Linked DNA regions of Homo sapiens: region 2 is linked to region 1. The links come from fine-mapping of genetic effects on gene expression. Tissue or cell type: whole blood. Region 1 holds a variant in brackets; the other region holds the start of a gene. All regions are shown on one strand. Distances are between the middles of the regions. Region 1 overlaps LOC100507006 (a long non-coding RNA gene). Region 2 holds the start of PELI1 (pellino E3 ubiquitin protein ligase 1).

What was found. PIP is the estimated chance that this variant, and not a neighbour inherited with it, causes the effect.
Region 2: it holds the start of PELI1, and the variant in region 1 is the best candidate, but not a certain one, in a credible set for the expression of PELI1 in whole blood (Lepik 2017, PIP 0.53).

The regions. Positions count from the first base shown.
Region 1 is chr2:64,229,595-64,233,988 of GRCh38, reverse strand. It overlaps LOC100507006 (a long non-coding RNA gene), which reads right to left. Exons shown (of 5, transcript NR_120420.1): 2 at 4,349-4,394. Among named protein-coding and RNA genes, the nearest start is that of LINC00309, 26 kb to the right of the region's middle. The variant A/G (reference allele first, on the strand shown) is at 1,626.
Region 2 is chr2:64,141,695-64,146,088 of GRCh38, reverse strand. PELI1 (pellino E3 ubiquitin protein ligase 1) reads left to right here and starts at 1,669. Exons shown (of 7, transcript NM_020651.4): 1 at 1,669-2,008. RefSeq lists silencers at 1,442-1,501, 1,592-1,781, 1,862-1,931, 2,072-2,141, 2,152-2,221.

The DNA.
Region 1 (4,394 bases):
TAAGATGGCACAAGGAAGGGCATGAGCTCTGGAAGCAGGCAGTCCTGGCTTTGAATCTAGCTCTATTACTCACCAGCCATGACCTGAAGCAACTTAACCTCTTCAAGACTCAGTTTCCTCGCCTCTAAAATGAAAATGATAATGACTGTCTCATAGAGTTGATGTGCAAAGTAAAGATGTGATATAAGCCCCTAACATCATGAGTGGTCCAAAATGGGCACTCAGGTACAAAGCCACAAACAAAATGCTAGTTATGACAATGATTCCACTAGGAACAGCAGAGCATCAGTCAGAGGTCGTGTAAAGTTTCCACTGACTTGATGATCTAAAGTAATGAATAAACACAGGAACAGGTCATTCAAACTGCAGATTACAAGGATAGTTTTTTTCAGTATGAGAAAAATGCTGTTTGGTAGCTCACAAGCAGATTTAACTCTGGAGCAGTGCCCTTGACGCAGAGCAGGCTGGGCTTTCTAAATTGTCTGCTCTCTCTCTCTTTCTTTCTCTCTCTGAGCTTCTGATACATAATATTCAGCAAATACACCACATACTGGAGAGTGGTATATCATATACCCTGTGACTGCATTTTACGACAGACTCCCAAGATTGAGGGCAGATGTACTATGCACTTGAATATGCCCAAAGTTTAAGAGTTAAGTTACTTAATGCTACATCCAGTGGCATCATTTGCAACAGAGCTGGCTACCAAAAATGCATTTGGGGATTCTCACTTTCCAACTAAAAACTACATTAAACCAGCACAGTGCATTGGCATTTTATATGAGACTGTAATAGTTGACAACATCCGTATCTCCATATCAAAGAGAAACCATCCCTTTTTCACAAGGACCTTATTTCAAAGGAGTTATACTTCTGAATGAGAGACAGTCCAACGATCTGGACCTAGAATCTCTGAGACTGTAGATGTTGAATAATATTAGTGTTATAAGAACCTCAGTTATTGTTATTGTTATTATTATTATTATTGAGATGGAGTCTCAATCTGTCGCCCAGGCTGGAGTGCAGTGGTACAATCTCAGCTCACTTCCACCTCCACTTCCCAGGTTCAAGCGATTCTCTTGCCTCAGCCTCCCAAGAAGCTGAGATTACAGGCGCACGCCAAGAAGTCCAGCTAATTTTTGTCACGCCAAGACGTCCAGCTAATTTTTGTATGCTTTTGTAGAGATGGGGTTTTGCCATGTTGGCCAGGCTGGTCTTGAACTCCTGGCCTCAAGCAGTCTGCCCACCTTGGCCTCCCAAAGGGCTGGGATTCCAGGTGTGAGCCACCTTGCCCGGCTTGACCTACGCTTTTCTAAGTCCATTTCTCAGTTCTCAGGTCACATCTGAGGTGTGTGTCAGTAGCATCCGACACAGTGATGACTCCCTTTCCTCTGAATTTGTTTCTTTACTTGGCTTCCAGCACAAACCCTTTCTTCATTTTCCTCCTATTCACTAGGCATTCCTTCTTAGACTGCTTCCCTGGTCCAGCCTTTTCTCTCTGACCTCATAATCTTGGAGGGCCCCAGGGCTCAGCCCTCGGGCACCTTTTCTTCCTTATTCACCCTCTTGGTGATCTCACCTGGTTTCATAGCATTAAATCATTAAATATCACCAGAAGCTGCCAA[A/G]TGTGCACCTCCAGCTCAGACTTCTCTCCTGAACTCCAGACCTCTTTTTTTTTTTTTTTTTTTTTTTTGAGATGGAGTCCCACACTGTCACCCAGGCTGGAGTGCAGTGGCACAATCTCGGCTCACTGCAACCTCTGCCTCCAATGTTCAAGTGATTCTCCTGCCTCAGCCTCCCAAGTAGCTGGAATTACAGGCACCTGCCACCACGCCCAGCTAATTTTTGTATTTTTAGTAGAGACGGGGTTTCGCCATGTTGGCCAGCTGGTCTCGAACTCCTGGCCTCAAGTGATCTGCCTGCCTCGGCCTCCCAAAGTGCTGGGATTACAAGTGTGAGCCACCACGCCCGTTTGAACTCCAGACCTTTATCCAGATGCCTGCTTCATGTATCAAACTTAACAAGTCCAAACTTGGACTTCTGTTCTTCCCTTTGAAGCCAGCTCCACTCCCAGTCTGCACTCTCTCAGTCGATGGTGACTCTATTCAAAACCTTTAGAGTCCTTCTGGACTCCTCTTACTTTTTTTTCTTTTCTCACATCCGAATCTTATTGGCTTCCTCTTCAAAATATATCCTGCATCCAACCACTTCTCACTACCTCCACTGCTGCCACTGTGTTCCAATCCATTGTCATCTCTCTCTTGGATTATCACATTCCCTTCCTCACGACAGTCTCACTGTCGCCCAGGCTGGAGTGCAGTGGAGCGATATCGGCTCACTACAACCTCAGTGATCTTCTGATAGCCTTGTAGTATAAAGCAATTCTCTCTCTTGACCCATCATAGCTGTCCAGGTACCATTTAAAGAATAACAACAACAAAAGGTGACCATTTAGACAATTTAAGAATTACATCCAAAAAGCAAACACATGGAGAAAAAAGCAAAACAAAATATAGGCTAGTGAGCACAATTAATTCCAATAGCCGGTTACAAATCCTTGCAACTTTCTCATTCCTTTAGGTTCAGAGAAGTCAGAAGACTTCAGGTTGAGGAAAGCCAGGAATATAAAAGCCAAGGTCAGCTTTTAATTTACCTTTAACATGATCAAAACTAAACTTTTGCCCGGGAGTTTTCTCAGTAACAAAGGTGAGCAATTCCACCTTCAAAGGCATTTTTGGGTCTACTCAACAGCTTCAATTGCAGTATACCCTGTTTTCCTCAAAATTAAGTTTCACATTTGTAAATGTTGATCAATAAACTAGTTCTGCTTTCCCAGGTTTCACGCTCAATTCTGAATGTCCTTAGGGGGACTCTGTGAAATTTATAAGGGCTCTGCTTCTTCTGCCTTCCTTTAAAGGATGGTGTTCCACTAAGATTCACCTTTCCATCTTCCACTCTCTTATCTTAATTTACATACTTTCGCTGGGTAATCTTGCCCACTTCTTCCCCTATGCTCATGACTCTCAACCCTCTACCTATCTCTAGCTCAGACCTCTCTCTTGAGCTTCAGATCCATATATCCCTGGATGTCCCATTCTCAAACACATAGTGCACATACAGAGTTCTTTCTCTCTGCCAAATGTACACCTCTTCCTCCCTTTCTTTTTCCTTACTGGTGCCAAGATTCATCTAATCACTCAGGCCAGAAACCTGAGCATGGTGCTATAAGATCACAGAGGAGAATCCAAGGATAGTAGCAATTTGCTGCAGGGTAGGAATGCAGGGAGGCATTCCAAGTGACATAATGTAACTATAGAGATGCCAAAATAAGAAAAAGCATGGTATGTGTGCTGTTAGGATAGAATAGGACAGGCTGAGGTAACAAATAAAACCCCATAATCTCAGTGGCTTTTGCTCATTAAAAAAATATATATATATGTCTTATGCCAATTGGTCAGCTTTCCTGCAACAGAAATTCAGGACCCAGCCTGCTTCCATTTTACAACCCACTGAGTTAGAGTTTTGCACATCCTAGCATATGGACAAAAGAGAATAAGCATGAAGAACTCAGACCCCCTCTTAGTCTTCCTGAACCAGAATGCCATATCCCTCCACTCACTTTTTTGTTGTCAAAAATTTGGTCAGTGTCCCAACCTAGCTGCAAAAAGAAACTGGGAGATGTCTTCTCATCTGCCTAGGAAGGTGAAATGAGGTAGTGAACATGTAGCATTTTCCCTACTATGACATGTTTAGGAAACCGTAAGAAGACTGGCATACCTGGAAACCAATGGGAATTATGGGTTGGATTGGGGGTGTAATATGTGTTGTGGAGAGAGGGTAGGTAGACAGTGCTAGGAGACACAAGAACGTAGGTACCATGGCCAATATAACTAGAAGGACTGGGTGGAGTCAAGAGCCTGAGTGCCATGCTAAGAATAGCATGCCAGTTCAATGGGAGTTTAAAGATGGGAAGTGAGCAAAGACAGGGAGAGGTGGTCAGTGGAGAATCCTAGAGCTCAAACTTCTCAACCTGAGAGCCCCAAGTAAAGGACCAGCTCTTGCTCCAGGACCAGCCTGAGGTTCCAATTGCTTTAAGAATCCATCGAGTGCAGACCAGGATATGAGACTCTGACCTAAAAACAAACTAAAAAGTTCTGTGTTCATTACCTCTGGACATTGTGTGATCCTTCCTCTAATGGCTTGGCTCCCAAAACCTCCCCACTGGCGCTCCCCTCTCAGCTGCATCCCAATTCCCTCCGCTGCACCCCAATTCCCTCCGCTGCACCCCAATTCCCTCCGCTGCACCCCAATTCCCTCCGCTGCATCCCATCTCCCTCCGCAGGCTCACCTCCCTTTTCTCTCCGGGTTCAGCCTTTCTTCTTGATTTTGATGGG
Region 2 (4,394 bases), 88 kb after region 1:
TGCTTACAATCCTTGTGTGGCTTCCCATTGTTTCCAGGAAAAGGTTCATGTTCCTTAGCATATTGTGCAAGATTCTTCATTACCTAAGCTGTCTCCCTTACCTTTTTCAGTGTCTCCTCTTGCCACTCCCCCAACTCCATTCTACTGCCAGCAATGCAACTATTTGCTGAACCAAAATACGTTTGGGTCTCACACCTTTAGGTATTTGTGCTTGATGCTCTCCCCAACACCACCCCCAATGCTCTCACCCACCTCTCTCTTCCTCCTCCCCTACCAAAATACACAAACATGTTAATTCCTAGTTATCTCAAGTGATCTTTGAAGCATTTCCTGATTTTGCCCACATCTGTGGGTAGCTTTGCATTTTCCTATTGTAGTACTTCTCAAATTAAGTCTATTTACCTGTCTCCTCCTTTGCATAGTAAGCACTCTGAAAATAAGAATGTTTCTTTTACATTTTTGTATCTCTATTTCTGGGGCTCAAAACAGTGCCTAGCACAAGTAGACACTCAACAAGCATTTTTTGAATGAGTGTATAATTATATAGTCTGTAGATATAAGGATTTCTGATCTTGAGACTCTCTGAAAGCCTTGCTCCAAAAGTGTGTCTGATTCCTAAGCATTAATCTTTTTCTTCCAGGGTGTGGGGTTCTAGGTAGGTGGAGAAGGAAAACAAAAGCGCTCAGGACGCGTTGCCTTTAGCTCTCCGGAGAGCCAGTAATGTGTCCTGCCTTTCTCCACCCTCCTCCCTACCACCTTTCCACACCTGGGTGCCCAAGATGGGTGTAGACTTAGCTGACCAGCCCAACAACATACTCATACCTTGGTTCAGACTTCTCTTATTACCAAACTAAAGTTGGCCAATACACATAAACAATTTTCAACTTGTCTTTTGAACGTATACTTTATGAAATTTGTATGTCTTAAAAATTGTAGGCCTTAAAATGAACGAACCCGGATTCTTTTATAGTAATCAAGTAAAATATAGGGGTCTTAATTCTGTACTTTGCCTTTGCTAATCTTAAAGTTAGATGTGACTAACTGAGCAAAGTAATTAATTACGGGACTTTGATAGTGGTGATATTCCTAAGTTTTATAACCTAATTGTTCAATTACTGGAAACAACTACATTTCGACAAGTCTTAGGTAAAGAAAATTGAATTTAGCCGGAGAAGATTCAATTGAGGGAAGTGAGGGACAGAGGTATTTGTGATTTAGGGTTTGTGGAAGATAAATTACGCAGCAGGGAAGACTGAAATATGGAGAGAAAGTCAGACCTCACTGGGTACTTATGACTGGTAAGGCTAGGAGTTGGAGGTGGAGAAAAGTAGGAAGGACCGTCTAAGGGTTGGATCCCCAACAACACCATAATACAAGACCGTCCTTGTTCAGCCAACAGCAGCACTGAACACGTTCGCTAAGTGTGTCGGTGACCATGGTAACGGTGGGAGGGGGCGGTCCAAACCTCGCCCTCGAGCATGCTCAGTGCAGAGCGAGCCTGGTAGGGTGCTGGACAACAATGAATCCCTTTTTTCTTCAACCGGAGAACTACAATTCCCAAGAGCCTTCTCGGTGCGGCGACACCGCCTTCCGCTGTGGCCCTGCCCGGTCCCCTCCCTCAGGCCCCGCCCCCCGGCTAGACCCCTCCCCTCCTTGCGAGTGTATGTCAGTGACCCAGAGGCGGTGTGAGGCGGAGGGACCGTCGGGGGGCGCCGCCGCCGCCTCCACTAGCAGCAGCGGCAGCAGCCCTAGTCCCGCGGTGCGGTCGAATTGGTCCCCAGCCCTCCGGGAGCGCACCACAAAGCAGCCCCAACGCCTCTCCCTGCGTCCGCGGCTCCTCAGCGCTCGGCTCCGTGGTCAACTTCCCCTCGCTGGGCTCGGCTGGCGGGCGCGGAGGGCAGCGGCGGAACGGCGGGCTGTCTGCTCGCGCTCCCCGCGCACAACACTTCACCCTCTCGCCTCGGGTCTCGGGGGCCGCTCTGGGATCCCGGCCACCAGCAATTGTCCGGTAAGTGTGACCGCGGGGCGCCGCGGGATGGATGGCGGCGGGGCCGCCGAGGGGCGCGGGGAGGGCGGGCGCGCAACTTCCTCGGCGGCTTCCCCGGCGGCCAGCAGCCGGCTCTCCCCGCCCGCCTGCGCGCCCCCGCTGCGGCGGGGAGCGGAGTTTGCGGCGCCTGCATCCCGCGCCCTGGCTCGAGGAAGCGCCTTTGTCAGGAACCGGCCCTACGCGGCCTCCCCCTCCGCCCGGGAGCGGGGCGCGCGGCGGCCAACTCCGAGCCCCGCGCCTGGCTGGCCGCGCGCTCCGGCTGCGAGAGGGGAGCTCTGCGGGTGGCGGGGAGGAGAGGGAAATGGGAGAAACAAAAGGGGCGGTGGGTTTCCCTTTTGTTTGTGCGGATCTGATAACTTCTTTTCCTCCCTTACATAACGCAGACTTCAAGTTAGTCATTCTTTTTATTGTTATGATTGTTGTCATCATCTCTGCGCGTCTTTCACATTTCCTTTCATCTTTGGATCTCAGAGCATTTTAAACACGCTAATTAATTTCACCCCCGGGTCCCCTAGGAAACAAGTTAATACGCCCGTTTCCCTAAGTGGGTAAACTGAGGTCGTGAAAAGCTCTCAAATTGATGGATACGCTTGATCTTCTACCGCGCCTCGTGTCTGAGTATATGAAAGCGTTTATGAGGAAGAACCCGTTCTCCAAAGCCCCGTGGAAAAGTTAAAGATGCTCATTTTACTTACAGGTTAACTGAAGTCCAAAAGATGTCTAGGTAATTGTTACGTAGTTCAAACCATAATTCTTCTTACATAGTGTTTGAATCTTAAAACCTCTAAAGACTTAGTGAAAAATGCTCCGAGTAGGGAAATTAATGTAAATCATAAACTCACGTCACCATCTACTTTTATTTTTGTACGTGCAGGTCTGTTAGAGGCAAGAGAGCAAGAAGGGGACAGAGGGCAGAGGTTTTTTAAAAATGTACATTTAACAGATTTTAATCACTACACACAAGGAAATGTGCCTTGGTTTTAACAGCACCAACAATATTCCTGTCGTTTAGTCATCAAACAGTATATCAACAAATGTTATTGAGAACTTTATTCATAAGGTGCTGGTTGTGCTAAAAACTGAAGCTTTATATATAAGAAAAGGTCATCTGTTTCGGTTCACAGGCTCTTTACTTTTTCTTACTCTGCAAAATGTTACTTTGTTTTCATTGCACATGATCTTTTGTTTCAGAAATGGCATTGTCCTTTACTGTGTCGAATATGTATTACTCTTACACTTAAGGATAAATGAATTTATTATTAAGTTTTCATAATAGGGTGAATTTAAAATATTTTAATTGTGGTAAAGGTTCACTTTATTCAGTTCTGTTTCAGTTTACGATGCGTTTTCTTTATAGCCAACAAAATATTTTCTGAGTGATAAGATTTACATGTCTCAAAACATTGTTCTTAGTGTACAAATACAGCATATGAATTCCTTGTTTTTTTTATTTATACCAACAACCTCTTCTGGGGAAAAGTCTTTAACTCTGAGGACCTTATTTATTTTGTGAGTTTTTATTTCTTCGGTACCATACTGGAAAGCACCAAAAATTTAAACCAAGCATCACTTCTACTAGCTCTTTCCTCAGGTAAATAATAATCAGAACTGTAGTAATAGTGAATAGTTTCACTTACTCTAAATTCTCTTAAATTTAATTTTGTACTATATAGTTGTCCTTACATTTTAGATTTTGGTGGTTGCATCAGAAAATGAAAGTGAGATGTTCGTTATTTTATTTTTTTTCCCAAAGCCTTCTAACCTGTTCCCTTTCTATAGTATGTTAAAAGAGATCTTGAGTTTAAAATAAATAATTGGAAAGTAGAACAGTTATATGTATGGAAAGTTGCATGTAGTGAAGTGGTTATAGTGTCTCATGTAGTGAATGTACAGGTTTTAAAGAGGAAACTATCACCTAGCTTTTTATTAGCATGGTAGAAGTGCTGTAATGTAATAGTAGTAGTATTTATTTGCTTCTAAAAAGTAAGCTGGAAATTTGCCTCAGTGGAATTTGTAGGGGGAGGGAATCCATTCTTTCCTTAAGATTGGCATTTAAATGTTCTTACAGTTGGTTATGTTGAACTTTTTCTGTGGTATTTTCAAGCCAGATTTACCAGGAACATTTGTACTTCAAGGAAGCTACTAACACTGTCTTGGCTCAGTCACTGGAATCCACAGGCAGAAGTTAGTGTTGACTGGCAAAGTCTGGCTTTGCAGGTTTCATAATTTCTTTGAGACCCCTTAAAGGAAATGACTGAAAAGTACGGGGTAGGAAGTTAGTCTAGTACTGCCAAATGCCACTGAGGCAAGTTTCAAAGGGGAAGCCAAAGGATGTTTCCATTTGATT